Linked DNA regions of Homo sapiens. The main gene of each other region encodes a partner of the protein of the gene in region 3 in a complex. Each region holds a gene or a part of one and is shown on either strand. Other genes may lie near its edges. The genes, in order: MED16, MED7, MED25 and MED26. A codon is read from its position in the direction of its gene.

Region 1 (8,077 bases), about 49 Mb from region 3:
CCACGTGGGACCAGCGCCTCACCTGACTGGTCCCACTCCAGGCAGGTGATGGCCTCGTGGTGCTCTGAGGGGATCGAGTGCAGGTCCCAGGGGTGCTCCGTGTCCAGGATGTGGATCATGCGGGTCAGGTCTGTGGGGACGGGGCATGGTCAGCACGGCCTGGCACCACAGCCTGCAGACGATGACGATGACTCCAGGCAGGCTCCAGGTAAGCCGGTGTGTGTCCCACCCCAGGAAGGTCACAGAACTGCTGTCAGCCGAGTCGACAGCTCAGGGAACAGGCTGTCCCCCCGCAGGAACAGAGCAGGCCTGTGAGGCGCCACAACTGTGTCTTTAAAACCAGATTAGAAGAAAATGACTCCGAAATGTGAACAGTGGGAGCCTCTCCACAGCAGATAATAGGTGGCTTTTTTGCACCCCGATTTGATTCCAATTTTCTGTGGTTTTCTAGTTTTCTCTAATGACCACGTATTATGAGTGCCTATTACTCAAACAATGGAGAGAAGACGGGCACAGCCACCACGCACCTTTCAAAAACCAGTGACACACACCGTCTAGAAAACTGGGGCACGTGTCTCCAACAAGCCTCCGTCAACCAACGCTCCAGCCCGATTCGATCCCGCACACGGGGCGATCTCATGTCTCCTGGCACCAGGTTTGGGGGGCACTGAATCCACCCTCTGTACCCCCAGGAGGCTGAGGCTCTCACACAAGTTACAGAGGAGGGCCAGGGTGAGTGAGAGGTGGCCTGAGAGACCGAGTCCCTTCAAGGCAGTGGGCCGGGCACCTGGGGAACAGGGCGGGACACCATGCGGCCGGGAGGGGAAGCAGGTGGGAGGGGGACGCACCCTGGTCATCGCTGCGCAGGTCCATGGTGAAGGCGATGAGATTTCGGCAGGACCAGGCGCAGGCCAGGGGCACCGATGGGCAGTGGGTGCTCTTGGACCATTTCTCCCACTCACAGACGTAGGCCAAGTCCATCATCCCACCTGCCGCTGGCCGCCGCAAATCACACATGAGGGCAGTCACCAGCTCCTGCGGGAGGGAGGTGTGGTGGGACGTCTATGTTGGCTGAGCACCCAGGGCATGTGGAGTGCCAGGCCAGAAGTGGGAAAACAATGGAGGCCCGTGGTAGAGGGAACAGCCGATGCAAAGGCCCGGAGGCCAGACAGAGCCTGGGGCTGGGGCCGAGGGGGAACATGGAGAGGTCAGGGCCAGTCCTGGGCCTGTGGGCTTCTACTCTCAGTAAGGTGGGAGCCCGGGAGGGCTGGGACCTATTTGGGTTTCACCAGGACCCCTCTGGCTGTCTAGGGAACAGACCATGGGGGCCAAGGGCACAGCCGGGAGACGCAGCGGAGGGTCTGCGCTGGCCCAGGTGAGTGATGATGGGGGCAGCAAGTGGACACTAGCTCTCTCCCGAAGGAAGAGCCCGCAGACAGGCAAGCGGTGGGGCGGCTCCCTGTAGCCGAGGCGGGGCTGAGTGACAGGGAACACCTGTGGCCGAGGCGGGGCTGAGTGACAGGGAACACCTGTGGCCGAGGCGGGGGCTGAGTGTGACGGGGAACACCTGTGGCCGAGGCGGGGCTGAGTGTGACGGGGAACACCTGTGGCCGAGGCGGGGCTGACTGACAGGGAACACCTGTGGCCGAGGCGGGGGCTGAGTGTGACGGGGAACACCTGTGGCCGAGGCGGGGCTGAGTGTGACGGGGAACACCTGTGGCCGAGGCGGGGCTGAGTGTGACGGGGAACACCTGTGGCCGAGGCGGGGGCTGAGTGTGACGGGGAACACCTGTGGCCGAGGCGGGGCTGAGTGTGATGGGGAACACCTGTGGCCGAGCCGGGGGCTGAGTGTGACGGGGAACACCTGTGGCCGAGGCGGGGCTGAGTGTGACGGGGAACACCTGTGGCCGAGGCGGGGCTGAGTGTGTTGGGGAACACCTGTGGCCGAGGCGGGGGCTGAGTGTCACAGGGAACAGAGGGGGCACCTCCTCGAGGCTTTCTAAGCGCCTGGCATCCAGACGGGCTGTTTCGCTTCGCAAAGGCAAAAGCCCAGGGAGCCTGGAATCACCCGCAACCAGGTTCTCCTCAAACCCTAACCCCGGCTCCCTACTTCTTCAGGGCCTGCCCCAGACCCCCAAGGCTCCGCCACAAGCCTCTAAAAGTCTTTCAGCCCCACCCCTGACCCCCTTTGCTTCCCACACTTCATTTCACCCCTTGAGCCCACGGCCTCACCCTAAATTCTCAGGCTTCACCGTAGGGGTCCCATGTACTCTCCAGGTCCAGCCTCCAACGCCCTTAGCTCTCCAGGCCCAACCCCTAAAACTCCCCAGTCCCCAGACTCCACCCCGGGGACCCCACGTACTCTCCAGGCCCTTCCCCTATTGCCCCCAAATACGAGGCTTCATCCCAGGGACCCCATAGCCTCTTCAGGCCCCGCCCCTATAACCCCCAATCTCCAGGGTCCATCCCAGGGACCCCCTACCCTCTCCAGACCCCTATAACTCCGCAGTCCCCAGTCTCCACCCTAGGGACCCTATTCCCTCTCCAGGCCCCGCACCGATAACCCCGCAGTCTCCAGGCCCTGCCTCTACAGCCCCCCAGTCCCCAGGCTCCACCCCGGCGACCCCAAACCCACTCCAGGCCCCGCCCCCGAAGTCCCACCAAGCGCCTTCAGCCTCGCCCCAAACTCTCCTTAGGCCCCGCCCCGAACCCAGCCCCGCGGGCCTCAGGCCTCCCCCAGGTTTCCGCCGCAAACCCTGAGCCCCGAGCCCCGCGCCCCGCGCCCCGCGCCCCGCGCCCCGCGCCCCGCGCCCCGCGCCCCGCGCCCCAGGCCGCCTACCCAGCAGCCTTTGCTCCCGGCCACGCCCCCGACCCCGCAGGCCCCGCCACGGCTGCGCCGCGTTCCCTCGGGTCCGTGGACACGGTCAGGGGTCCGTCCGCCCTCGCCGGGCCCCCGCAGCCCCGCACTCACCTGGTCGGCCCGTGCGCCAAGCTCAGCGGGCGTCCGCGGTGCGATCTTCCCTAGCGCCTCGGGTCTGGCGCCGCCATCTTCCTCGGTAACAACCAGTCGCCTGAGGCGTGGGGCCGCCTCCCAAAGACTTCTGGGAGGGCGGTGCGGCTCAGGCTCTGCCCCGCCTCCGGGGCTATTTGCATACGACCATTTCCAGTAATTCCCAGCAGCCACCGTAGCTATATTTGGTAGAACAACGAGCACTTTCTCAACTCCAGTCAATAACTACGTTAGTTGCATTACACATTGGGCTAATATAAATAGAGGTTAAATCTCTAGGTCATTTAAGAGAAGTCGGCCTATGTGTACAGACATTTGTTCCAGGGGCTTTAAATAGCTGGTGGTGGAACTCAATATTCGTGCTCGCTTCGGCAGCACATATACTAAAATTGGAACGATACAGAGAAGATTAGCATGGCCCCTGCGCAAGGATGACACGCAAATTCGTGAAGCGTTCCATATTTTTTTTTTTTTTTCCATTTTCCCTCCCAGAAACGGAATCTTGCTCTGTTGCCCAGGCTGGAATGCAATGGCGCGATCTTAGCTTGTTGCAACCTCCGCCTCCCGGGTTGAAGCGATTCTCCTGCCTCAGCCTCCCGAGTAGCTGGGATTATAAACATGCGCCACCACGCCCGGCTAATTTTTGTATTTTGGTAGAGACGGGGTTTCGCCATGTTGGCCAGGGTGGTCTCTATCTACTGACCTCCTGATCCGCCCGCCTCGGCCTCCCAGAGTACTGGGATTACAGGTGTGAGCCACCGCGCCCGGCCTTTCTTCCATTTTCTAATGTCCAAGAGTGGGGAAACTGTAAGCGAAGTCACCGACCCCGTTGAGTATTCCTACTTCCAACCCTATTCCCACCTCCTCCTCCAAAAGCCAGTTTAATGCAATGGATGTGGTGCTCTTCTATTTTTATTTTTATTTTTTTTGAGACAGGGTCTCGCTCTGTGGCCCAGGCTGGAGTGCAGTAGCGCGATCTCAGCTCACTGCAACCTCCGCCTTCCAGGCTCAAGCGATTCTCCTGCCTCAGCCTCCCGAGTAGCTGGGACTACAGGCGCGCACCACCATGCCCAACAAATTCTTGTATTTTTAGTAGAGACGGAGTTTCACCATGTTGGCCAGGATGGTCTCAGTCTCTTGACCTGGTGATCTGCCTGCCTCAGCCTCCCAAAGTGCTGGGATTACAGGCGTGAGCCACCGCGCCCAGCCTGTTTTTTCAAAATTTTAATAGCGATGGGGTCTCACTATGTTGCCCAGGCTGATTTCAAACTCCAGGCCTCAAGCCCTCCTTCCACCCCGGCCTCCCAAAGTGCTGGGATTATAGGCGTGAGCCACCGCGGCCTCACTGCATGATTTTTGCAAGAATTCTGCAAATATAAAACTGTTCTAAAATTACAGGTTAACAATGGCCCAAATATCAGAGTGTTTTTTCTGGATCAGGGTTCAGTTCTCCAAGAGGGCCACGCAGTGACCTTACAGAAAATCCCCATTCCCAGGCAGCAGGTAGGGATTTAACGTTCTTAGCGGCCCGGGTGTGGTGGCACACACCTGTAATCCCAGTACTTTGGGAGGCCAAGGTCTGAGGACAGCTTGAGTTTGAGACCAGCCTGGGAAACATAGCCAGACCCCGTCTCTACAAAAAAAAATTAAAAATTAGCAGGGTTGGGGAGGGAGGGGCGCTGGGCAAGGTGGTTCAGGCCTGTAATCCCTGAACTTTGGGAGGCTGAGGCACGCAGATCACCTGAGAACAGGAGTTCGAGACTAGCCTGGCCAACATGTTGAAACCACATCTCTACTAAAAATACAAAAATATTAGCTGGGCATGGTGACACATGCCTGTAGTCCTAGCTACTCTAGAGGTTGAGGCAGGAGAATCACTTGAACCCAAGAGGTGGAGGTTGCAGTGAGCTGAGATCGCGCCACTGCACTCCAGCCTGGGGGACAGAGCAAGACTCTGTCTCAAAATAAATAAATAAATAAATAAAATAGCTGGGTGGGGTGATGCACACCTGTAGGCCCAGTTACTCAGGAGGCAAAAGTGGGAGGATCACTTCAGTCTGGGAGGTCAAGGCTGCAGTGAGCTGGGATTGTACCTCTGCACTCCAGCCAGGGCAACAGAGCCAGACCCTGTCTAAAAAAAAAAAAAAAAAAAAAAGAGAGGTTGAATTCCTAACTCCCACTACCTCAGAATGTGACCTTATTTAGAAACAGGGTCTTTGCAGAGGTAATCAGGTTAAAAGGAGGTGATTAGCATGGGCCTAACCTAATGACGGGCATCATAGAGATGGATATTTGGGCACAGACACGTGAGGAGAGGACGATGTCAAGACAAGACATAACACACAGGGAAAACGGCCACTTGGAGATGAGACCACAGCAATGTGGCCACAAGCCATGGACACACGAAGTCCCCAGAAACCGGGAAAGGCAGGAAGGCTCCTCCCCTAGAGACGCTGGAGGGAGCACTGCCCTGCAGACACCATGACCTCATTCTTCTACCTCCAGCATTGTGAGAGGATAGATTTCCCTTTTGCTTCTCTTTGACCTAGGGTCTTCCTCCATACCCAGGCTGAAGTGCAGTGGCACGGTCTCAGCTCACTGCAGGCTCAAGTGATCCTCCCACCTCAGCCTCCCAAGTAGCTGGGACTACAGGCGCACACCACACCCTGCTAATTTTTGTGTGTGTGACAGAGTTTTGCTCTTGTTGCCCAGGCTGGAGTGCAAAGGTGCGATCTCAGCTCACTGCAGCCTCTACCACCTGGGTTCAAGCAATTCTCCTGCCTCAGCCTCCTGAGTAGCTGGCATTACAGGCATGCACCACCACACTCGGTTAATTTTGTATTTTTAGTAGAGATGGGGTTTCTCCATGTTGGTCAGGCTGGTCTTGAACTCCTGACCTTGTGATCCACCCGCTTTGGCATCCCCAAAGTGCTGGGATTACAGGTGTGAGCAGCCACCATGCCCAGCCAACCCTGCTAATTTCTCTCATGTTTTGTAGAGACAAGGTCTTGCTATGTTGCCCTGGTTGGTTTCAAACTCCTGGGCTCAAGCGATCCTCCTGCCTTGGCCTCCCAAGGTGCTGGGATCACAGGCATGAGCTACTGCACTGGCCTTCTGTCGTTTCAAGCCCCCTGTGTGAGACCCTCCATTACAGGGGCCCCAAGGCACTCGTACAAGCCACTCACTCAAGGTCTACAGGGGCCCCAAGGCACTCCTACAAGCTCCTCACCCAAGGTCACACGGCAGGCATGTGGCAGAGCCAGGGTTTGAATCCAGGCAACCAAGGGCAGAGGAGCCAGGGGGGCACCTGCAGCCCTTGGTGGCCAGGACCTACTAAGCCCCCGGCCCTGCCCCGAAGAAAAACACACATAGCCCGAGGCCAGAGCACCAGAAATTTATTAAATTCCCCACTTTCCCCCAAAACACAATTACCCACACGCAGCAAGGGGGTGCGGAGGCCCCCCAGCCTGGCTCCTGCAGCCTGGGCCAGGAGGACCAGCATGGGGACACAGGAGCTATCAGGCAGGAGTCAGGCTGGGGGACGAGGGGACACGGGATGGGGTGACAGACAAGGTAGTGCAAGGGCAGAGGCTTCTGGCTGGAAGTCCTGGACCCCCAGCATAAAGGAGGGGAGGAAAGGAAGGGGGCTCATATAAAGCAGGAGACCCTGAGCCCCGACACAGGTGGCGTGGGGGAGGACACGCAGAATGACGAGGATAAAACCGGCTCTTAGGACCGTGGCTTCTGTCCTGGGTCTCAGGGCACACGCGCGCACACATATACAACACAAGATGCTTCTGGCATGAGGGGCAGGGTCCCAGAGACCCCACCCTCATTCAAGCTAAAAACTGGGAGGGGCTGAGCAGGGGCTGGGACCAAGACCCATGTTTTACCAGTGGGGCGAGTTTTTTTGGTTTTTCTCTCCAAAAGGGAAATTTAAAAATCTACAACAAATCACACCAAATTCATTAAAAGTGATAAAAACCCAGCCTCCCCCTCCTCACTTGAGCTTCAGACCGGGCCAGAAAAGCTCAACGATGAAGAAACAGGAACATGCCCAGGTCAGGTCTCCCCACCCAAACACAAGTCCCGGAGTGGGAAGCTTGGAGCTGGGATGGCATGGGCAGCCCCAGCCGCCAGCGTCTGTTGACTGCCAAGAGCTGCGTGAGGAGGGGGCAGAGTGAGAGAGACCACCCCAAGCGAAAAAGGTTTCCGAGGACAAATTCTAAAAATATGAAAGATATTTTAGCCGAAGGTATCGGAGGGCTTGATGGCTGGGCGAGGTGGCAGCGGGGTCTCCGCGGGGCCGCCATCAGCTGTGCTGCTCCAGGTAGGCGGACAGGAGCAGCCCCGGCGGCAGGAAATCCAGGTGCCGATTACTGACCTTCATCTGCCGCTTCCCCTCCAGGTCAGCACCTGCAGACGGGACCAGCGGGGCAAGAACGGGAGGAATTTGGGAGCCGCGGCAGGTAGAGGTGCCTCGGACCTGCACCACCCTCGCTTCTTCCCAGGGAGGTCACCGCCAGCTGGTGTGTGCTGGTCACTGCGGCCTGGCTGGCCCTAAGCCCGCAGGTCCGGGAGCCTGGCTCACAAGAATACCTAAGGCTCCCTACAGGAGCACTCTCCTCGGGCCCATCTCACTCCCCGCTGGCACTCATTCCACTGTGCGGATGGGGACCCTGAAACGCACTGGGCCTGAGGCCGCATGGCCACTCACACGCCTGCCTGGCGGAGTGTCCGGCCTCCCCTCAGGCTCCCTGCCCTGCAGAGGTGGCTCTGAGGCACCCAGGTCCTGAGTGGTCCAGCTCCCACCGGCCTCCCCTTCCCCATCTCCCCCTCACTGCAGAAAAATGAATGACCTGGCCAGGCGCAGTGGCTCATGCCTGTAATCCCAGCACTCTGGGAGGCCAAGGCAGGAGGATCATCTGAGGTCAGGAGGTCGAGACCAGCCTGACCAACATGGTGAAACCCTGTCTCTAGGGCTGGGCGCGGTGGCTTAAGCCTGTAATGCCAGCACTTTGGGAGGCTGAGGCAAGCGGATCACGAGGTCAGGTTGAGACCATCCTG
Region 2 (7,237 bases), on a different chromosome or scaffold from region 3:
TCTCCCAATCTCATATCACAATCACTTTTGTTTTATGTTATAGATTTATTTCCAATAGCAAACACTTACTTGTATCTCTCATAAACACTCTGACAAAATTAACATTGCTAAATCCTAAACACATTATTATCCAAAGTTCCTGAATGAAATGATGATTCAGTTCCATACCCTTTTTGTCACAGTATACTATGCAATTTTATATGGACACATTAACTTTTGTTTGTTTTTTGAGATGGAGTCTTGCTCTGATGTCCAGGCTAGAGTGCAGTGGTGCAATCTCAGATCTCAGCTCACTGCAACCTCCGCCTCCTGGGCTCAAGCAATTCTCCTGCCTCAGCCTCCTAAGTAGATGGGATTACAGGCGTGCACCATGTCTGGCTAATTTTTGTATTTTTAGTAGAGACGGGATTTTGCCATGTTGGCCAGGTTGGTCTCTTTACTCCCCATCTCAGGTGATCCGCCCACCTTGGCCTCCCAAAGTGCTGGGATTACAGGCGTGAGCCACCACGCCTGGCCTGTATGGACACATTAACTTCTCTACAACTATCACAGAAATGTCAAACCCCAGGTTCAAACCCAGTATCTATGGCCATAATAACCTCTACTTATTCTACCTTAAGCCTAGGTATACCATCCAATGAGAAGATCCTTAAGTGCTCCTTTAGATTGGTGTTATCAGAGTTTCAAGATATAACACACTCTAACATCGGGTGGGGCAAGTATCCTACTAGAAGCAATATTATACTTAGAATTCGTGAGGTACTGAGGGCAGCTGTGGCGCAGCCCTGAGTTTCCACTATGCCACAGTGGTGCATAGGATGATGCAGCCTCGCCCTCCTAGGCTCAAGCGATCCTCCCACCTCAACCTCCCAAGCAGCTGGGACTACAGGCATGTCACCAAGCCCGGCTAATTTTTGTATATTTTGTAGAGACAGAGTTTTGCCATGTTACTCAGGCTTGTTTCAAACTCCTGAGCTCAAGCAATCCTCCTGCCTTGGCCTCCCAAAGTGCTGGGATTACAGGCGTGAGCCACCACACCCAGACATTTTAAAACTTTTAACATAAATTCAGATTACAGAAAAAGTGCATGAATACACAAAAAACACTTCATATTCTTCACTCAGATTCTCCAAATGTTAACATTTTCCTTCATTTGCTTTATTGGTTTTTCATTCCTTTACCCCTGAATACTTCAGTGTGTTTTCTCGTGACAAGAATGTTTTCTTCTACCCAAAGCACAATTACCAAAATCAAAGAATTAACAGTGATCTGGTACTTCAAAATACATTTTTTTTTTCCCTGAGACAGTGTCTCGCTCTGTCACCCAGGTTGGAGTGCAGTGGCACGATCTCGGCTCACTGCAAGCTCGGACTCCCGGGTTCACGCCATTCTCCTGCCTCAGCCGCCTGAGTAGCTAGGACTACAGGCGCCCGCCACGACGCCCGGCTAATGTTTTCTATTTTCAGTAGAGACGAGATTTCATCGTGTTAGCCAGGATGGTCTCGATCTCCTGACCTCGTGTTCCACCTGCCTCGACCTCCCAAAGTTCTGGGATTACAGGCGTGAGCCACCGTGCCCGGCAGAAAATACAATTTTTGACAGCTCACGTTTCATCCCACTCAAACCTTTTTAGGTGAGGAGTGCTGCTCTGTACTTTCCTACACGATGTGCATTCCTGTATTGCGGCTGCCATTTTCCTAAGGCCAACTACATGACAGGTACCATTTTTTATGGCCTCTGTAACATAATCTTCATTAACAATTCTATGAATTAAGGTTTTTGGGGTTTTTGTTGTTAGTTTTGTTTTTTGAGACAAGGGCTCAATCTGTCTCCCAGGCTGGAGTGCAGTGGTACCATCAGGGCTCACTGCAACCTCTGCCTCCCGGGTTCAAGGGATTCTCCTGCCTGAGCCTCCTGAGTAGCTGGGGACTACAGGTGCGCACCACCACGCCCAGCTAATTTTTGTATTTCTCGGTAAAGACAGGTTTTCACCATGTTGGCCAGGCTGGTCTGGAACTCCTGACCTCAAGTGATCCGCCCACCTCGGCCTCCCAAAGTGCTGGGATTACAGGCGTGAGCCACCACACGGTCCCACGAATTAAGTTCTATTATCAATTTCATTTTAGAAGTGAGGATCCGAAGTCTCAATGAGGGGAAGTGTTGCCCCAGATCAAAAGGTTAATAAATGGCACAACAGGAATTCTTATCCCAGGTCCCTTTAGCTCCAAAGGGCAAGCTCTCTTATATCCCTAAGCCGAGAAGCATCTAACTGTACAATAAGGACTGGCATATCACAAAAATTATATTTCTTTCTCTACTGTCTCTCTAGATGGAACTTTTCAAAGGTGATGGAGGTCTTATTTTTAATAAAAGCAGAGCCAAGCATCAGAGCTGGTTCTTAACTCAAGATCCAACATCTAGTGTTTGTTCTACTGGGGGAGAAGGAGCTTCACCAGAAGACGACAGACATTCCAGGGTCCCAGCCCCAGAGATTTGATTCATTCTGTCTACTGTGAATGGGCCCTAGAATGTCGCTTTTAAAACCTCTCCAGATGGACCTGACGATTAGGCTTGGGATCTACCGCCCTCGCCTGCCCCCATACCTCAGCTGTTTCATAACTGCTCCCAGAAGAAGGAAGGGCAGGGAGGGCTACTCTCATGTTACAAAGAGCCGGAGAGGGCAAATGACTCGCCCAAGGCCACACAGCTTAGAAAAACAGCGGCGCGGGGACTAGACGCCAGGTCTCCCAACCTCCACTCCGGCTCGGCGTCCCAACACGGAGGAAGCCCCGAGACTGCCACGCTTAGAGCCCCCTCCTCCAGGCTGTCCACCCCGAGGCCTCCGCGCTCTCGGAGAGACCGCACTCTCGGAGAGACTCGGGAGAGAAAGACGAAAGACCGCCTTTGGAGGCCGAACTCAGCCATGCCTCCCCAGTTCCCAGCCCAGCACAGAGGAAGCTGCGGGGTCCGGAAGAAAAAAACGCACACAGGCGGCGGCCCCAAACCGTTGCCGCCCACTTACCTCAGCTCTGGCTTTACACTGGTAGCCGCCTTCCCCTCTGCAGCCGAAACCAACTTCCGGTCTCCTCCGGGAAGAAGCCACCGACTCTGTCCTTGATTGGCTGTAAGAGCTGTCCTTTAACGAAATTCTAGCTCCGCCTCAGACCGATCCCTCGCTGTTGCGCCTACGTATGTTTGACTCCTCCCATCCACCCGTTACTGACTTTTAAAAGTCGTAGCTGAGGGTTCCGTTTCTTCGTTTCTTTTTGAATTAAGGCATAAAATTGAACAAGACACCTTATTGCTTTATTTTTTATAGACCCCTTATTGACCAGAAACAATCTTATGTTTTAATGTTTAACATGCTCTTGTAAGACTTAACGTGAATTTAGAAATTTATGACACGAAAATAACCTCCAAAAGAAACGCTTGCTATTGCGCCTGCGTATATTCCACCCCCTTCCCCATTACCACTCTTTTACTGACTTAGTCGCTGCTGGTAGTTCCATTCCTTTTGTCCTTTTTTAATTTAACGCATACAATTAAGACGTCTTACATACAAATTCGAAAATATAGACATGCAGGGTTTTTTTGTTGTTTTTTTCTTTGAGACGGAGTCTTTCTCTTTCGCCCAGGCTGGACTGCAGTGGCGCGATTTCGGCTCGCTGCAACTTCAGTCTCCGGGATTCAAGCGATTCTCGTGCCTCAGCCTCCCGAATAGTTGGGGTTTCACCTATTTTTTTTTCTTTTTTTTGTATTTTTGGTAGAGACAGGGTTTCACCGTGTTGGCGAGGCTCATCTCGAGCTCTTGATATGAAGTGATCCGCCCGCCTCGGCCACCCAAAGTGCTGGGATTGTAGGCGTGAACCACCACTTCCGGACTCCCCCATTTTAAATCCCTCGCACGTATCAATTTATTTCCTGAAGAAATCCATCTACGTTGAGCATAACCCAATCCAGCTTTTCTCCTCACCGCTGACCCCAATGTATCCTGCACCAGTGACTTCCAATGGTCGTTCCCAGTCCTCATTTTACTCCATCTGTCAGCAGCATTTGGCACATTTGATTAATGGATTGCCCCAGGACTCAGTTCTCCAACCACTTCTCAGTCAGATATCAGCTGGATGATTACATGCAGGCCCTGGAACACCGTTTCCTCTGCACTTCAGACCCTCATATCCAGTGGTGACAGACATCTTTCCCCAGTTGCACTTTACTCAATTGCAAATGTTCAATCGAAGGAATCACCTTTTTCTCCTTTCTCACATACCCCACCGAAACTACCATACCAGCCTTTTGCATTAGATCTATTTAAAAATAAGTAAATAAAGTTCCAAATATGACTGACCACCGTTCCCACTGCTATGGTCCTATGCCATGCCACCATTATCTCTCACCTGGACTTCTTTGATTTTTTGTCCTCCCTTAGTCTATTTACCACACCTTCTTAAAATATAAGACCGGTCTTATCACTCCTCTATTCAAAATCCTCCAAGGCTTTCTATGACTTTTAGAATAAAATCTGACATCCTTCCCCTGGCCTATATCACAGGCCCTACAAAATTGCCAAGTACATCCCGGCCTTGGGGCCAATGCATTTGCCTGGAACTCTTTGCACAGATATTGACACGTCTCATTTCCTTCTTTCCTTTTTTTTTTTTTTTTTTTTTTTTTTTTTTTTGAGACGAAGTCTTGCTCTGTCACCCAGGCTGGAGTGCAGTGGCCCAATCTCGGCTCACTGCAAGCTCCACCTCCCAGGTTCACGCCATTCTCCTGCCTCAGCCTCCCCAGCAGCTGGGACTAGAGGCACACGCCATCACGCCCAGCTAATTTTTTTGTATTTTTAGTAGAGACGGGGTTTCACCGTGTTAGCCAGGATGGTCTGAATCTCCTGACCTCGTGATCCGCCCGCCTCGGCCTCCCAAAGTGCTGGGATTATAGGCGTGAGCCACCGCGCCCGGCTTCATTTCCTCAATTCATTCAGGTTTCTGGTCAAATGTGACTTCAAAGAGTTCTTCTGGGGTTACACTACTCTATGCAAAATAGCGCATCCCTAATCTTTCTCTTGGGAGATGCCCCTGAAACCCTTACTATGTATTATCTTTTTTTCATAGAACCTCTCATCATCTGAAATCATCTTACATAGTATATTTATGTATTTTATTGCCTTTCTTATCCATCAAAAATATCAGGTTTATGAGCATGGGACCTTTGTTTCATTTACTGCTGTTGTGTTTGAACCTACATACAACGGTGCCTGAAATTGGCAAATACTCAATAAGTGTTTATTGAATAAGAAACAAAATGAATACAATCATCACTTTCAAATAAATTCATAGCGTGGCTTTGGTGGTTATACCACAGTCTCTTTAGCCAGATCCTCATTGTGTTAAATTATTTTTCTCCAAATTTGATCCAGTGTAACTACACAGGATGATGAGATCCCAGTACATATATGTTTGTGCATGTGTCCAATTTTGTTCTTTGAAATAAATTTCTAGAAATAGAATTACTGGGCCCAAAGGGGCAGTGTCTTAACAGTTAGTAGCAGAATCAAGGCTAGAATCTTGGACTCTTGACTATCAATCTAGTGTTCTTTCCAATAAACTTCAAATGAATAATGGATATGAAGTCCATATCATGAGAAGGGCTAGTGACAATATGATGTGTGTTAAACATTTAATTATATGACTATATTGGCAAAATCTCAATGGAAAGCTTATTACTTAAAGATGCCTACTACAGCTTAACAAGGAATATGCTCGTTGAATAAATCTGTATATTGTGTGTCTGTTGTGCCGGCACTGGTCTAGAAGGCTAAAAAGACAGACAAAAGCCAGTGGGGCCTTTGAAAAAAGTGTTCTTTCTAGAAGGTGTTCTAGAGAGACACAGACAAGAAGTATACAAACAAGTAAAAACTTCGAATAGTGGTAAGGGCTATGGGGGAAAGTATAATACAGATTAATGTGATAGTGACGTGGGTTGGGGAATAGCTACTTTACACAGGGTGGTCAGGGTAGCCTCTCACAGAAGGTTAACTTTGGAAACAAAATATGAAGGAGTGAATTCTGCAGAGATCTGGGAGACAGCAAATGCAAAGAGCGTGGGGCTGCCATGATCTTTCTGAATTAGAGAGAGGAAGGCAGCCTGTGTGCTCCATAGCTAGTGAGCAAAGAAAGAAAGAGCAGGGGAGATGAAATGGGCAAAGACACACGGTAACCGACTTCTTGCCTCCCTTAGGATCTTGGCACATTATAAAAAACATCGCTGTCATTTGAACCTAAATTACAAGCAGAAATTTTTAGTTTCCACCCTATTGATTTTTTAAAATGTAGATTTATTGAGGGATACTTTACATAGAATAAAATTAACTCTAGGTGAATAGTTATAAGAGTTTTGATAAATACATACTGACATAAAACCACTACCACCCGGATTAAGATGTAGAATATTTCATCACCCCAAACAACTTTTTTTTATTTCAATTCCTTCCCTTTATCCCCATCCTCTAGTAACCACTGATCTGATCCCTGTTCATATAGTTTTACCTTTTGCAGAATGTCATATAAATGAAATTAGAAAGTATGTAGTTTTTGGTGTCTGGTTCCTTTCACTTAGCATAATACTTTTGAAGTCCATCAATGTTGTTCAATGTATAATACTTTGTTCCTTTTTACAGATAAGGAATATTCCATTGTATGAATATACTGTAATTCATGTATCCATTCACTGGTTAATAGACATTTGGGTTATTTCAGTTTGAGGTGATTCTTAACAAAGATACTATAAACATTCCCATGCAAGTCAATTGTATGGACATATGTTTTCATTTCTTTTGGATAACAACATAGTGACAAAATTGCTGGACATTATAATAATTATATGTTTAACTATATGAGAAACTACCAAGCAGTTTTCTAAAGAGGCTGCTTATTTTTCATTTCTCAGCAATCTATCGGAGGTATAGTTGCCCTCAATCTGCAAATTGGTGTTATCCTTTTAATTTTTACTTTTTGCTATTCTAATATCTGTATAATGATTTTAATTTGCATTTCCTTAGTATTGGGTATCTTTCATGTGTTTACTGGCCATGTATATCTTTTCTTTGGCGAACTGTCTGTTCAAAATTTTTGCCCATTTTTTAAATTGGCATGTTTTCTTACTATTGAATTGTAAGGGTGCACACACACAAATACACACAAGATATAAGTCCTTGATAAGATATGTCTTTTACAAA
Region 3 (7,865 bases):
GCCTAGCCACCATCCTGTAGGCTTTGATGATTTACATTCTAAACGGAAAAAACAGCTGTGCCCGGATCAAAGATTGCGATGGTCCCAAAGCATTGCCTAGCAACCACATTCCCTGTAGGTTTCCAGTATATAGTAGTAAACAATGTGCCCTACTCAAAGATGGCGACCGTGGCGGGGCGTTGCCAAGCAACCACCATTCAGCCTGATATCCATTCCAAGGCTGTAAACAGCTGTGCCCTGCTCAAAGATGGCGGCACGTCGAAGTCCGAGCACCCTCCTTGGGGCGAAATCGAGAAAAACACCATCTCCCCTACAACCTTCGAGGGTGGTTGAGTCCAGCGATCGTTGCCTAGTAACCACTAAAAAAAAGGTTGTTTTTGTTATTAGAAAAAAGAAAACAAGGAAATCCTTTATTTTCCAGAATAATAAAAATAATATCATTTCTGTAATGAATTTATACATGATAGCATACCATGTAAAATGTGAAAAATCCCTTCCCCAATTTTTTTCCTAAAATACAGTTTAACGTAGACTATTCATACGTTTTCACAAAGATGATCAATATACTAACATTTCCACACTTTCTTTTTTGCCATGAAAAAGTATGTCTATTTCATCTTAATAATGTATTTTTATAATCTATTTTATGGATGTGACAAATTGATTTGACCAATTCTGTATTGATGTACATTAGGTTGTTGAACTCCTCCAGACTAGCCAACTAGTGCTGGGACAGCATTTTACTGACTTTTTAAAATGCCCTTATGAATATTTTTATTATTTTACACAGGCAGCATTTACTTGTAATGACAAAAGTATTTATGATTCATTTTTCCCTTCCTCTTCCTTCTTGCAGATCAGCCCATCTTTCTAGCATAATTTTTAATTTTCCTACTTCCTAAAGTACATCTTTTTCTCTTTTTTTTTTTTTTGGGAGAGGGGACAGGGTCTCGTTCTGTCGCCCAAGGTGGAGTGCAGTGGAACCATCTCGGCTAACTGCAACCTCCGCCTCCAGGATTCAAGCGATTCTCCTGCCTCAGCCTCCTGAGTAGCTGGGATTACAGGTGTGCCCCCACCACGTCCAGCTAATTTTTGTAGTTTTTGTGGAGACAGGGTGTCGCCATGTTGCCCAAGCTGGTCTCAAACTCTTTGGCTCAAATGATCCACCCACCTCAGCCTCTCAAAGTGCTGGGACTACAGGCAGGAGCCACCATGCCTGGCCTAGGTACCATTTTAATCTTCCTTCTTGCCTATTGATATTTTTTTTCCTTTCTCTGGATTACTTTTATCTTCCTTACAACTTTATTAAAATGTTAGTTACACAGGCATAAAAGAGGGGGCTGCTCTAGATGAAAAGAAACTTGAGACATAATGTCTAAATATGTGTGTGGTCTTTGTTTGGATCCTGATACAAATAAACCAACTGTAAAAACACATTTTGAGACAATTGGAACGTTTGATTACACACTTACTGTTGGATGATACTAAGAAGTTAATTTTGTTACAGGTAACAATGGCATACTAGTAATGTAAGAAAGTGTTCATAAAATTGGAAAGATGCCTGCCAAGCACACAGGAGTAAAATCATATGATTGTATGGATTTGAAGGCTTCAGCAGGCCAGGCGCGGCGGCTTACGCCTGTAATCCCAGCACTTTGGGAGGCCAAGGTGGGCGGGTCACCTGAGGTCTGGAGTTCGAGACCAGCCTGACCAACATGGAGAAACCCCGGCTCTACTAAAAATACAAAATTAGCTGGGCGTGGTGGCGCATGCCTGTAAACTCAGCTACTCGGGAGGCTGAGGCAGGATAATCGCTTGAACCCAGGAGGTGGAGGCTGCCGTGAGCCGAGACTGTGCCATTGCACTGCAGCCTGGGCAACAAGAACAAAACTCCATCTCAAAAAAAAAAAAAAAAAAAAAGCTTCAGCAAATGAGACTGTCTCAAAAAAAAAAGGGCTTCCGCAGGCTCACTGCCTATAATCCGGGCACTCTAGGAGGCCAAAACGGGTGGATCACCTGAGGTCAGGAGTTTGAGACCAGCCTGGCCAACATGGTAAAACCCTGTCTCTAACAAAAATACAAAAATTTGCCTGCGAGGTGGCACACACCTGTAGTCCCAGCTACTGGGGAGGCAGAGGCAGGAGAATCGGTGGAACCAGGGAGGCAGAGGCTGCAGCGAGCCGACACTGCGCCACTGCACTCCAGTCTGGGCGACAGAGCGAGATTTTGTCAAAAAAAAAATAATAAAATAAAAAAAAATAAAAATAAAAATAAAAGATAAAAGAAAAATAGAAACCCAATAAAAAATAATTTTAAATGATAAAGGTAAAAACCTTTATCATTAGGCTTTCTGTAAGTACTTTTCAATTGGTGATTATTATTATTATTATTACTTTTTTTTTTTTGAGACAGCGCCTCGCTCCGTCCCCCAGGCTGGAGTGCAGTGGCGCGATCTCTGTTCACTGCAAGCTCCGCCTTCCGGGTTCACGCCATTCTCCTGCCTCAGCCTCCGGAGTAGCTGGGACTACAGGCGCCCGCCACCACGCCCCGCTAATTTTTTTTTTTTTTTTTTTGGATTTTCAGTAGAGACGGGGTTTCACCGTGTTAGCAAGGATGGTCTCGATCTCCTGACCTCGTGATCTGCCCGCCTTGGCCTCCCAAAGTGCTGGGATTGCAAGCATGAGCCACTGCGCCCGGCCTGTTTTTTTTGTTTTTTTTGTTTTTTTTTTGAGACAGTCTCGCTCTGTCGCCCAGGCTGGAGTGCAGTGGCGTGATCTCGGCTCACTGCAACCTCTGCCTCCCGGGTTCAAGCGATTCTCCTTGCCTCAGCCTCTCGAGTTGCTGGGATTACAGGTGGGCACCACGACGCCCAGTGATACTGACCTCGTGATGCGCCCGCCTCTACCTCCCAAAGTGCTGGAATTACAGGCATGAGCCATCTCGCCCGGCCGAAGATTATGTTTTAAAATATTTACTGGCCATTCAAAATTTTGTGTGTGTGTTTGTGTGAAACTAGTCAGGTTTCTTTTTATTTATTTATTTTTATTTTTTTTGAGACGGAGTCTAACTCTGCCGCCCAGGCTGGAATGCAGTGGCACAATCTCAGTTGACTGCAACCTCCGCCTCCCGGGTTCAGGAGAATCTCCTGACTCAGCCTCCCAAGTAGCTGGGATTACAGACGCCCACCAGGACGGCTAATTTTTTTATTTTTAGTAGTTAGAAGGAGTTTCACCATGTTGGCCAGGCTGGTCTTGAACCCCTTACCTCGGGTGATCTGCCCGCCTTGGCCTCCCAAAGTGCTGGGATTACAAGCGTGAGCCACGGCGTCCGGCCCTGGTCAGGTTTCTTTCTATTAAAACAAATATAAAGTGGCAGGGCACGATGGCTAACACCTGGGATCGCTTTAGCCGAGGAGTTTGAGACACGCCAGAGCAACACAGTGAGACCCCATCTCTACAAAAAATTTAAAAATTAGCTGGAAGTGGTAGTGCGCGGCTGTGGTCCCAGCTGCTCCACAGGCTGAAGAGTGGCTCCAGTGCGAGTAGAGGCTGCCGTGAGCCAAGATTGGGCCACTGCACTTCAACCTGCACAACAGAAAGAGACCCTGCCTCAAAAAATAAAAATTAAAATTAAAAGATAATAGTAATGAAGTGTTTCTATTTTTCTATATTGTTATTCATCAGTAAGATTTATTTGCGTAGTACATTTCTGTCAACAAACACGCTAGAAAGATTTTCCCAGTTGGCCGTATATTTTTCAACTTGGTTTATACAGTCTTTTGGGAAAAATTAATGAAGACTACGTTTTCTAACTTTGCTGTAGTGCTAAGAAACTCCATGGCAGTCATTAAGATTTTTTCCCTTCAGATAGTTTTCGGGTTTCATTTGTTGCACTTACATTTTTAATCCACCTGGAATGTATTTACGTTCTAAGCCAGTTTCTGGCTCCTCTCCCAGAAAACAACGCTCAGGTGTTGCTTAGCAACCCGCACTTGGTTTGGTGTTCGGCTTCTTTTCGGGGGGGAAAACAACTGCCCTCCCTTCCAAGTTGAGGACGACCTTAAAGCGTCGCCTAGTAACCTCGTTTCCGCCGATGTGATTGGATCCTTCTCGCGTCCCTCCCCTAGTCCCCACGCCCGAAAGAACAGAACCAGAAACTTAATCTAACGGTTACAAAACAAGGGCAGCGGGCCCGGCGCGGTGGCTCACGCCTGTAATCTCAGCACTTTGGGAAGCCAAGGCGGGCGAATCACTTGAGGTCAGGAGTTCGAGAACAGCCTGGCCCACAGGGTGAAACTCTTTCTCTACTAAAAATACAAAAATTAGCGGGGCGTGGTTGCGGGCACCTGTAATCCCAGCTACTCGGGAGGCTGAGGCAGGAGAATCGCTTGAACCCGGGAAGCGGAGGTTGTAGTGAGCCGAGATCGCGCCACTGCACTCCAGCCTGGGCGACAGGGCGAGACTCCCGTTTCGAAAAAACAAACAAACAAAAAACAAAACACAAAAACGAAAACAAGGGCAGCGTACGCGTTGCATAGCAACCAGGTCTCCTGCCCCTCCCTTTGAGACAAGAGGCGGACCTGGACGCCCCGCTCAAAGATGGCGGCTGACTGAGCCGCTTTCAATTTATTTAGCTTTTGACAATAATTCCGTCTAACCCATCAGGCCCCTAGAAGGGCTAACTATGCCCTTTCTGAGTCTTCCACGCGGTGGGGGCGAAGGAGGATGGAGCTAGAACGAAGCCTCAGCGCGTGCCCCGCACAAACATGGCAGCATTCCCAGCAGCCCTAAACCGCCCGACGCGAGCGCGCGCGCGGCGCAGGCGCATTTCTGCTCATTCCGCGGCGTCGGCTGCGGCTGCAGTGGTGGTGGCGGGTACCGCACGGGGTATGGTCCCCGGGTCCGAGGGCCCGGCCCGCGCCGGGAGCGTGGTGGCCGACGTGGTGTTTGTGATTGAGGGTACGGCCAACCTGGGACCCTACTTCGAGGGGCTCCGCAAGCACTACCTGCTCCCGGCCATCGAGTGAGTGCTGTTTCCGCGACTCTAACCCCGCCCTCCCACTTCAGTTTCGCACAGTTTCTTGCCTGACTCCGACCTTTCACTTCCTACCCTCACAGGTATTTTAATGGTGGTCCTCCTGCTGAGACGGACTTCGGGGGAGACGTGAGTCTAGGGACTCCTGGGCCTGAGGGAGGAGGGGCCGGGGGCCTGGACTCCTGGGTCTGAGGGAGGGAGAAAGGGCTGGGCCTGGACTCCTGAGTTTGAGGGAGGAGGGGCTGGGGGTCTGGACTCCTTGTTCTGAGGGAGGAGGGCCTGGGGGCCTGGACTCCTGGGTCTGAGGGTGGAGGCGCTGGGGCCCGGATTCCTGGGTCCGAGGGAGGAGGGAGCTAGGGGCCCAGATCCCTGGGTCTGAGGGAGGAAGGGCTGGGCGTCTGGACTGCTGGGTCTGAGAAAGGAGGAGCTGAGGCCTGGATTCCTGGGTCTGAGGGAGGAGGTGCTGGGGCCTGGGCTCCTGGGTCTGAGGGAGGAGGGGCCGGGGGCCTGGATTCCTGGGTCTGAGGGAGAAGGGGCTGGGGCCGAGATTGCTGGGTCTGAGGAAGGAGGAAGCTGAGGAGTTCCTGGTTCTGGAGGAACGGGAAGCTGGGAGCCCTGATTCCTTCTCTAAGGGAAAAGGGAATTGAGGTCCCAGATTAAAAGTTTTCTGTCCTCCCCTCCCAGTATGGGGGGACCCAGTACAGCCTCGTGGTGTTCAACACAGTGGACTGCGCTCCCGAGTCCTACGTACAATGTCACGCTCCCACCAGCAGCGCCTATGAGTTTGTCACCTGGCTCGATGGCATTAAGTGAGCTTTCCCCCACTTGGGGTGGGTTGCTGGTCCCTGTGAGGGGCCGTGAATGAGTGATGGCTTGGGGTGGTTGGTGTCCCCGTGAGAGGCTGTGAATAAGTGATGGCTTGGGGTGGTTGGTGTCCCCGTGAGGGGCTGTGAATAAGTAATGGCTTGGGGTGGTTGGGGTCCCTGCGAGGGGCCGTGAATGAGCGATGGCTTGGGTTTGAGCTGCAGGAAACATCTCATACATTAAGGGATTGAAAGGACTTTGAGGGTGATTGTGTTTTTGTCAGAAGTCACTTTTGTGGTGGCTTCTGTGTGCTCAGCAATGTTGCCATCAGTTTAGAAGTAGGAAAAACCTTCCCATTCAGGGAGGCCTGGCTGAGCTCCAGCAGCCACCTTGTACTCCCTGTGTGATTGTCCCCTTTCTGTCCTCTCTTTTTCCGTCTACCCCTGTCCTCCTTTTCCAGATGGGTACATTGTAGCCTCAGTGCAGGGGGATGGGTCAGAGCCAGGATAGATCCCTCTGTGGCTTGGGTCAGAATTTTTTTTTTTTTTTTTGAAACAGTGTCTTGCTCTGTCTCCCAGGCTTGTAGTGCAGTGGCACAGTCGTGGCTCACTGCAACCTGTACCTCCTGGGTTGAAGCGATTCTTCTGCCTCAGCCTCCCAAGTAGCTGGGATTACAGGCACACGCCACTATGCCCAGCTAATTTTTTTTTTTTTTTTTGTATTTTTAGTAGAGACAGTTTCACTGTGTTGGCCAGGCTGGTCTCAAACTCCTGACCTCATGTGATCTGCCTGCCTCAGCCTCCCAAAGTGCTGGGATTATAGGGGTGAGCCACTGTTGCGGGATTCAGGACGACAGGAGAGAGCCCTCGGGTTAAAGCAGGAGAATCTTTCATTGAGTGCACTCAGGCCCAAGCCGACTCACGTCCAAAGACGGCCCAGAACAAAGGTAGCACTTGACTTTTATACACACTTCACAAAAGGGGGTGGGCTAGCTTGAAGCAAGCTTACAGTGGCGTGACAGCAGGGATACAGAGGCAGAACAAAAACAGTTAATCAAATTGTTGTAACAGGTTTATAACTCAGGATTGCACATAACCGTTGCTATGCAACCCAGATGTCCCTTATCTAGGTTAGCCTAGGCACGGGCTTATCCCATAACCTTCACTGTGGTGCCCAGGCAGCTCAGGCTTCTCATGACCTTCGCTGTACTTCTTAGATAAAACAGAATACTTGAAGTCATGAGTTACAGAGAACAGGAATCTATAAACTCATTCCATAAAACAAAGGAAAATTTGTTTTTTCTTCTCTCTATGTTGAGGGAGTGCTGGGAGAGTCTCCAAGAGCACTTTAGATAGTATTATCAAGACTTTTCCTGGGTCTGGGCTGTGCCCATTGCTGCCTCTCAGACAAGTCAGCCTAATACATAGAACTTATTTCTCTTTTTAATTTTTTTTCTTTAATTTCCTGCCTCACCACCACGCCTGGCGCTGGATCGGATTTTGATAGTTGACATTGTAGAGTCTGGAGTCAGGCAGACGGGTTAAATCCTGGCTCTTCCAGCACAGAACTAACTCTCAGACCCAGGAGTCTGTCCCCTCTGTGCCTAGTATCTCACTTGTGAAGTGGGGATGTGGATAGTACTTGTATTAGTATTTCATTGTATTACTTATTCTTAGCTGTATAATAGATTACCACCAAATAATGGCTGCATACTGCAAACATTTATTATCTAACGCAGTTTCTGTGAGTCAAGGACACAAGAGTGGCTTGGCTGGATGGTTGGGCTGAGGGTCTCACAAGGCAATAGTCAGGAGGTCGGCAGGATTGCAGCCATCCAGGGGTTTGACTGGTGGTGGGGAATCCGTTCCCAAGGTGGCGAGTCTGTGGCTGTTGGCCACAAGACCTCTCCACAGGGCTGGTTGACTGTCTAACATGGCAACTGGCATTCCTCAGATTGAGGGACCCAATAGAGAGAGCAAAGAGGAAGCCCCAGGCCTCTCTTGTTTTTGAGGAAGGGTCTCACTCTG
Region 4 (7,905 bases), about 33 Mb from region 3:
AACACCCTGGGCTGAAAGGGTGCACGACGAAAAGAAAAGCTCCAACTGCTCTGAAAAACTGTTAGTAGCCTTTTCAAAAGGAGAGTAGAGGATTTACTTTATTACTGAATTGGCAGAAATTATTAACTCTGAGCCTGCTGCTATAGGAATTCAAATGCATACTCCAGGGGCTAAAAGTGAGAGCACAGAAACTACTTTCCTCCTAAGAATTCCTTTGTCAAGGAGATGGTTGGTAAACACGACTTCGTCACTTCCCTAACTTTCCAGATACTTGTGGATATTAGGTCAGTTCCTGACACCGATTTTGCAAGCAATAGCTAAGTTTGTTAACCATAATTGCATGCCCATAAAGGTAAGCATTACATGACACAATTCTCTGCCGCTTCTCTCAGAAGAGGTTTAATTTTAGTGTTGGCTCTTCAACACTGTCCCCGTTTTTTTTTTTTTCATGAGCATCTTAAATATGTGTCAACTAAATATCCAGTAGTGGAGTTCATCATTGGGCAGGGCAGAGAGGAGAGAGCGGCACGCCGGCAGCACCTGTGCTGGAGCCACCTGCTCTCACCTGAGCCCACATTGATCCAAGAGAAACTGCAGACGCACTGACATGCCCGGCTCTCACCATCACCTCCGCCAGCAATCCTGTCCACCGCGGCTCTGTGTTTCTGCATGGTGTTTGCTCAAAGCAAACGGTCCTGTCAAATGGCCCATAACAGCGCTCAGAGGGTCAATCACAAAGGAGGCACTTTCCTCATTGTTCATAGTCAAGAAGATAACTTCCCAAATCCATCCACCCCATGTTAGTAGGACTCTGCCCAAGATCATCACTAAAGTCCCTGAAAATAAGCGGTATGAAATGCAAATTCCATGCCAGCTAACATAACCAGGGACCTATATAGCATTTCTGCATGTGCTAAGACACACAAAACTAAGATTTGTTCCATCCTCCTTTCTTCTGCCTCAAGGAACCCTTTAGATTAGAACCCTATACAATACTGGAAACTGTGAGGTCACTGGAGTGACCTAATCTACAACACTGTGATCGCCTGTCAAAGTGCCGCCTGATCCCAAAGCTCTCTGAGGTGGCATTAAGGATCAGTGCTAATATCTCAGCAACCTCTCAGACTCTCCAGAAGGAAAGCGAGTGCGTGAAATTAAAAAAATTACCTTCCGGCTCCACAAAAGATGCACAAGTCACCAAGGCTATTTTTTTCATGTCACTAGTTTTATCCTCTAATATTTCAGTCTTAAAATTGCAGTGACACCAGTTACTGCAAAAAGGACATTCTAGAAGGTTTTATATAGCTTGTGCCCACTCCACCCCCAAAGTCATAACAAAAATGTACAATATAACATTTGTTAAAGACAATTACCATCAAGTCAATGTTAATGGGACCTGAATACCAGGGATAAGAGAAGTACTTATATCACAGCAACCAGAGCCTTCGAAAAAACTCATAACCCTTCAGTCTTAACCAAAAATTGTATAAGCCAATGTGAATTATTCCCAAAACATCATCAGAGTGAAGCATATTGCTAAGAGTAATCAGCCAAGCTCATGTAAAAATGAAAGCAAAAACCCCTACGGTGAGAGAAACCTGAGTTACCTGGCCAAGCCAAAGATGATATTTTTCTTCCATTCACAGCACATTAAAAAGTGATCTCAATGGCCACTTCCTGGGAAGCAGGGCCTCCCCTCATACCTGGATGCTACTGCATCTTCCTACCGCCCTGCTCCTGCCGCGGGAAGAATGACCCCTACTGCCAAGAAACTCTTGGAGAAAATATGAGAATAGATCAGTCTTCCCCCCCACCCCCCCACCCCCGCAACAACACACACACACACACGGAAGGGGAGGGGGCGGTCCCTCCGCAAACAGTAGCCTCAGCAAAGGGGCACCCGAGGAAGCGACACTCTGGAGTTAACCCCGACAGTCTGGGTCAAAAACCACCAGGCTGAGACCCCCAGGTGAGGGAAAGAGCCTACTGAAACAGAGCTCTTGGGTAAACGGGAGAGAAAAGTCCTCTTTAATTCACTACCTAAAAAATGGAGCTCTGGCTTGGTCAGAGACGCAATGGGTACTGAGGCCCAGAAAGGCAACAGGAAGGATCCCACCCTCCCCGAGATCATCTATCGTCGGCAGCGACCCCAAGAGGGTTTTGGCAAAGGCGTGTCTAGTCACAGAAGGGAGACAGACTCTCCACGTACCCTAGGTACCCGGCCAGGGGCAAAACAGACTGGGGGTTCTCTCCGAAGCCAGGAAGGTGCTGCCAGCCGAGAGGAGGGGGAAGAAGGACTTCCCTGATCACCCAGGAGGCCAAGACATGGGAGACATAGGTTCCCCGAGTCATACCCCGGACACCAGTTGCTTCACAGCCCTTCTCCCTCCCCTTCCCGCTCCGGGAGGGCTTCCCGGGGGTCTCGGGTCCCGGAGGGAGGGCGAGGCAGAGAAGCTTCGTCCAGAGCAGTGAGGGTCGTAGAGCTGGAGCAGAAAGGGAGGAAAAACTCTAGCCTCAGCTCCCCCGTCTGCTTCCTCCGCCCAGGCCGCACGGAAGCCTCGGCCTCACGTACCGAGCGCTGCCGGGCTGCCCGACCTGCCCCCGGCCCGGGCCCGAGAAGCGAGAGGCAGGGATGGCAGCGGCCCTCGAGGGGAGGTGGGCGCCAGACGGGTCCCCCGAAGCCCGGTGGGCGAGGGGTACAGGAGAGGGGGAGGGTCCCGGGCCCATGCGGCCTCCGTCCCAGCTCGCGCGGCGGGTACTTACGTTGCTCTGGGGGTCGATGGCCTGCAGCAGCCGGTCCCTGATCTGCTGCGGAGACGCCGGAGCCGCTGTCATTGCCTGGGCGAGGCGGGGGGTTGCGGCCGGGCCAGCGGGCGGGCGGGCTGAGGCGGGGGACGGGGGTCACTCACTCGCCGGCCTCCGGGAGCCGGAGCCGCATGTTCCCCGCGGCGCCGGGGGGTTGGGGGCGCGCGGGGTGGCGGAGAGGGGAGCCGGGGCCGGGTCTCGGTCCCGGGCCGCCGCCGCCACCAAAGGAGGAGGAGGAGCCGCCGGAGCCGCCGCCGCTCGCTGCCGCCGCCTCGAGAACCAAACTCCAGTGAGCTGCCCCCGCGCGGAGTACTCTGGGTAGTCCGCGCCGCACGCAGCGTCGGCGCCACGCTGAGGAGGTTGGGAGATGGGGCGGGCGGAGACGCCAGGCCTGGGCGGGGCTGCCCGTGTGCCACGCCCCGCGCCTCCGCGCAAGCGCGCGCAGGCGCACTCGTCCGCCCGTGACGCCCCGCCCAGCCGCCCGGCCTAGGCAGCCGTTGGGAGGAGGTTGGGCGGGGCAACGGCCCCCGTCCAGGTCACGGGGCGGGGCTTTCTGACGGAAGCGCGCGCGCAAAGAGTCCTTGAACCCGGACGCTCGCAGCGGCTACCTCGGGGCGGGGAGGGCGGCGGGAAAATCCTTCCTCTGGGAGAGCCTTCCCGGCGCGTGACTGGGGGACGGGAGTCGCAGGCTGAGCAGCTGCCGAGTTTTTTGTGAGGGCGAGGGAACCAGACGTCCACGTTGTGATTCTGCGCGCAGAAGGGTCATCGGAGTCCGGGGGTGTCGCCGCGGCCCCCCCGCCCCTCAGAGGGTGTGGGAATGGGTGTGGTGGCAGGGCGGGGGTCTGCACCGCCACGCGCGACCCCGATCGCGAAAACGTGAGGCGGCAAAGCGCCTCTGGCAGAAGCCGCCCGCCGTAGCTGGGAAAGCCGGAGGTTGCAAATCTGCGTCTACGCGGCGGCTTCTCCACCTCGGCACCACTGGCATTTGGGCGGGATCGCTCTGTCTTCGGGGCGGGTCCCCCGATCTGTCGGAAGTTGAGCGGCATCTCTGGCCTCCGAAGCGCCCCCTCCCCCAATCTGCAGTCATTGCCGCCGTCCCTTGTGGGGGCACAGTCCCCCCGCCCCCCCACCGGCAGAGAACCCCGTGATTGAAAGACCCTTCTACCCGCCTCTGCCTTGAGATTCTGTAAAACTGAGATGCTCATTCTCTTAACCAAACACGTCACAGAGGAGGAAACGGAGGCCCAAGGTCACCTAGACTTCGGGGTTAAGCCCAGAACCGCAGATGTCAAGTTTAAGGGCGCCCCTCCTCCCTCCACCCTGTTTATTGCCTTGGTAATTGCTCCCCTCTCTCTGGGAGCTCTGTTGGAAATGCTCTTGTGAGACGGGATGGAAAGGCAAGCTCGGCGGCCTCGGGAGAAATCTTTTTTTTCCCACTGTTACAGGAAGACCTAGATTTAAAACAGGAGGAAGACAGCTGATGAGAACCACATGTGTGCCTTGGAGCTGCCCGACACCTGTTAGTCTTGTATTTGTTGTGCTTCTGGGAAATATTTTCATTTGCAAAAACGGCTGCTTCTGCACGTGGCTATGGTTGCGTGCTTCTGCACATGTGAAAAGTTTTACATCACACTTGGAGGAGAAAAGAAACACGGGCAAAACACTTGTCATTTACTGCTCCCAACCTCGCCCCTCCCAGAATGCGGTGCATTGTGTACATGGTGTACATGGTCCAAGTTGGAAACTGGCCCATTCGGAGATAATTCTCTCATTTCTGATAAGCAAAATAAGCAAAGCCTTCCTCAGGCATATTCTGGTCTTGCCTCTCTCTTAATTTCTAACTCGGATGTACAGTATCTTTTTTTTTTTTTAATAAAGTATTACATAGGAGGCAATTTATTTTGCATGGGTCAGGTTATTTTAAGAAACATTTGGGCCGGACGTGGTGGCTCAAGCCTGTAATCCCAGCACTTCAGCAGGCGGAGGTGGGCGATCACTTGAGCTCAGGAGTTCGAGACTAGCCTGGCCAACATGGTGAAACCCCATCTCTACTAAAAATACAAAAATTAGCCGGGCATGCTGGCGCGCACTTGTAATCCTGGCTACTAGAGGGGGCTGAGGCAGAAGAATTGCTTGAACCCGGGAGGCGGAGGTTGCAGTGAGCCAAGATCACACCACTGCACTCCAGCCTGGGCAACAGACTCTGTCTCAAACAAAATGTGGGGCCAGCCACGGTGGCTCATGCCTGGTAGCTCATGCCTGTAATCCCAGCACTTTGGGAAGCCGAGGTGGGCAGATCACTTGCGGTCAGGAGTTCGAGACCTGCGTGGCCAAAATAGTGAAACCCCTTCTCTACTGAAAAAACAAAAATTAGCCGGGCATGGTGGCACACACCTGTAATCCCAGCTACTCAGAAGGCTGAGGCACGAGAATTGTTTGAACCCAGAAGGCAGAGGCTGCAGTGAGCTGAGATCACGCCACTGTACTCCAACCTGGGTGACAGAGCAAGACTGTCTTGAAAAATAAACAAACATCTGGAAAGTACTCAACTTACCCACTTTTTAAAAACTAAGAAGCACTGACATGACTTGGTTCCTCAAGGGCACTGGCTCTTTTTGGTATCCCCAGTAGATAGAAAAATAGTATCTGTGGAGTAAGTCAATGAAAAGTTTCATCAAATACACGGTAGCGTTACACACACCCCCAGACATATGAATGCATTTCAGTTTCTACAGATCTGGTACACCATGGGTCTGGAGAGCTATTTCTGGAATGAATGAAATACTTCATAAAATATAATACTATATACACCAGGATACACAACACACACACGGATATTTAGTTTTATTCCACATTTAATGTACGTAAAAGGGTGTTTTTGTAAATGCAAAGATTAAATCAGACAGCCTCTGAATTGTAGTCTTGAAAACATTAGCAAGTTCTTTTAGGTCCAGGGTAGATACTGCAGTTCACTTAGCCAACTTTCTGCATTGAGACATCCTTGCCAGGGATCCTGTCAGTTATGCGAAGATGCGGCACGAGATAATTCCTCTTGCTGTGATGGTTCGTCCTCAATGACAGGTCCCTTATAGTATTTAGGTACAACAAGGTCTTTTGTGCTTGGAATGCCCTTGAAAAAGCTGCCTCACCTGTTTGTGAAGGGAACCCCAAAGAGAAAGGGAGAGGAAGGGCTGGGTGCAGTGGCTCACATCTATAATCCCAGCACTTTGGGAGGCCGAGGTGGGTGGATCATTTGAGGTAAGGAGTTAAGAGACCAGCCTGGCCAACATGGTGAAACCCCACCTCTACTAAGAATACAAAAATTAGCCGGGCATGGTGGTGGGCACCTGTATTCCCAGCTACTTGGGAGGTAGAGGCAGGAGAATTGCATGAACCTGGGAGGCAGAGGTTGCAGTGAGCCAAGATCACACCACCACACTCCAGCCTGGGTGACAGAGCGAGACTCCATCACAAATATAAAATAAAATAAAATAAATAGAAAAAAGGGAGAGGAAGTAGTTCAGAGTCCATGACTTGCTCTTGCCATGGGAAAAGGCAAGGAAGTTAGTGTCAGGAGGTCAAGTGCAGAGCATCTTCAGCCAACCTGGACAGTGAGGGAGTAGAAGGATGCTTCTCCCTGGACTCACTGCTGTGGCCTAAGCAGGAACCGGGATATTCAAGAGCACTGCAGAGGAAGCCGTGACGAGGCAGGTTCACACAGCTGTACAGGAATAGTCTTCCACAGCGACACCTTGTAATAGCCAGGAGCAACAGCAGGAATGCGCTCATCAGACATGTCAGAAGCAAGCCCCTGAGAGACAGGCCATTTAAAGCACAGGGTTACTAAACTTACCCTAATAAGGGATGTGAGGGCTCCAGGGATTAACAGAAAAAGCCAGTGTGACAAAAACAACCACCCTCCTTTGACCCCTATGTTTGCTTTAACAGGCGGGTGGAATTTTTTTTTTTTTTTTTTCGAGAGAGTCTCACTCTGTTGCCAGTCTGGAGTGCAGTGGCGTGATCTTGGCTCACTGCAATCTCCGCCTTTCAGGTTCAAGCGATTCTCCTGCCTCAGCCTCCCGAGTAGCTGGGACTACAGGCGGGTGCCACCACACCCAGCTAATTTTTGTATTTTTAGTAGAGACAGGGTTTCACCATGTTGGCCAGGATGGTCTCAAACTCCTGACTTCATGATCCGCCTGCCTTGGCCTCCCAAAGTGCTGGGATTACAGGCATGAGCCACCACACCCGGCCGCTGGCAGAAATTTTTAAAACCCTTTCTCATATATGAACTCATTCAACCCTATCAGTTATCTCAGAAGTACCTAGAGATGAGTTTCATAGTTCTGCTTGGCTTTGCACTAAGTCTTGTTTACTCTAAAAGTGAAACCAATTTAAATTGGTTTTGACTAACCTTGACATGTCAAAGATAGGTAGAAGACCTCAATTTTTTAATCCCATCTTCAAGTAGGGATGGGGATACAGAAAGGTTCCAGTTCTGAACGCAAGCCCCGGAACCTGGTTGGGGGGTGGGAATTCATGAATACAATACTTTAATTGCACTGTACAAACACAACACGGCTGGGACACCAACGAATGAAAAAAGTCATTAACTGTGAACATTTTTTTTTTTTTTTTTTTTGAGGCAGAGTCTCGCTTTGTTGCCCAGGCTGGAGTGAAATGGTGCCATCTGGGCTCACCTCTACCTCTTGGGTTCAAGTGATTCTCGTGCCTCAGCCTCCTGAGTAGCTGGAATTACAGTTGCATGCCACCATGCCCAGCTAATTTTTGTATTTTTAGTAGAGATGCGGTTTCGTCATGTTGGTCAGGCTGCTCTGGAACTCCTGACTTCAGGTGATCCACCCGCCTCAGCCTCCCAAAGTGCTGGGATTACAGGCGTGAGCCACCATGCCCGGCCAACTGGGAGCATTTCAATAAGCTCATACCCTCTGACCCTGTGGATATGAGCGTACTGAAATTCACAACTTCTAAAAGTTTATCTGAAGGAGGCAATCAGATGTAGACAAATGTGTATGTACAAGGAAGTTCACTGAAGCACTATTTGTAAGAGTGAAAGATTGGAAGCAATGTAAGTGCCTA

Evidence for each region.
Region 1: the proteins of MED25 (region 3) and MED16 are in contact, whole or in part, in a cryo-EM structure (PDB 7EMF), measured with the Homo sapiens proteins. Residues at the interface, in NP_112235.2 of Homo sapiens: Ala26 (codon at 4,964), Asn27 (codon at 4,967), Gly29 (codon at 4,973), Pro30 (codon at 4,976), Tyr31 (codon at 4,979), Val74 (codon at 5,758), Asp75 (codon at 5,761), Cys76 (codon at 5,764), Ala77 (codon at 5,767), Pro78 (codon at 5,770), Glu79 (codon at 5,773), Val82 (codon at 5,782), Cys84 (codon at 5,788), His85 (codon at 5,791), Pro87 (codon at 5,797), Lys102, Phe103, Met104, Gly105, Gly106, Gly107, Gly108, Glu109, Thr120, Gln123, Leu124, Asp127, Phe128, Tyr151, Leu152; in NP_005472.2 of Homo sapiens: Cys41 (codon at 897), Arg42 (codon at 894), Ser92, Ser94, His113, Arg161, Lys163, Phe171, Gly172, Gly173, Lys174, Pro195, Gly485, Tyr486, Ala516, Ala517, Gln520, Val521, Thr524, Arg525, Ile554, Ala555, Ser558, Lys561, Ser562, Leu563, Leu564, Arg565, Pro566, His567.
Region 2: MED25 (region 3) and MED7 share a complex: the UniProt entries of both Homo sapiens proteins name them as parts of the mediator complex.
Region 4: MED25 (region 3) and MED26 share a complex: the UniProt entries of both Homo sapiens proteins name them as parts of the mediator complex.

The regions. Positions count from the first base shown.
Region 1 is NC_000019.10:890,115-898,191, forward strand, and holds the start of MED16 (mediator of RNA polymerase II transcription subunit 16), read right to left. Parts: upstream 3,074-8,077; 5' UTR 2,972-3,073; intron 1,036-2,971; 5' UTR 1,018-1,035; coding exon 849-1,017; intron 131-848; coding exon 23-130; intron 1-22. Other genes in the region: R3HDM4 (R3H domain-containing protein 4), read right to left, coding at 7,323-7,426. UniProt on the Homo sapiens protein: Component of the Mediator complex, a coactivator involved in the regulated transcription of nearly all RNA polymerase II-dependent genes.
Region 2 is NC_000005.10:157,139,798-157,147,034, forward strand, and holds the start of MED7 (mediator of RNA polymerase II transcription subunit 7), read right to left. Parts: upstream 3,069-7,237; 5' UTR 3,023-3,068; intron 2,979-3,022; exon of another isoform or gene 2,604-2,978; intron 1-2,603. UniProt on the Homo sapiens protein: Component of the Mediator complex, a coactivator involved in the regulated transcription of nearly all RNA polymerase II-dependent genes.
Region 3 is NC_000019.10:49,813,454-49,821,318, forward strand, and holds the start of MED25 (mediator of RNA polymerase II transcription subunit 25), read left to right. Parts: upstream 1-4,835; 5' UTR 4,836-4,888; coding exon 4,889-5,022; intron 5,023-5,117; coding exon 5,118-5,163; intron 5,164-5,718; coding exon 5,719-5,843; intron 5,844-7,865. UniProt on the Homo sapiens protein: Component of the Mediator complex, a coactivator involved in the regulated transcription of nearly all RNA polymerase II-dependent genes.
Region 4 is NC_000019.10:16,625,109-16,633,013, forward strand, and holds the start of MED26 (mediator of RNA polymerase II transcription subunit 26), read right to left. Parts: upstream 3,097-7,905; 5' UTR 2,836-3,096; coding exon 2,764-2,835; intron 1-2,763. UniProt on the Homo sapiens protein: Component of the Mediator complex, a coactivator involved in the regulated transcription of nearly all RNA polymerase II-dependent genes.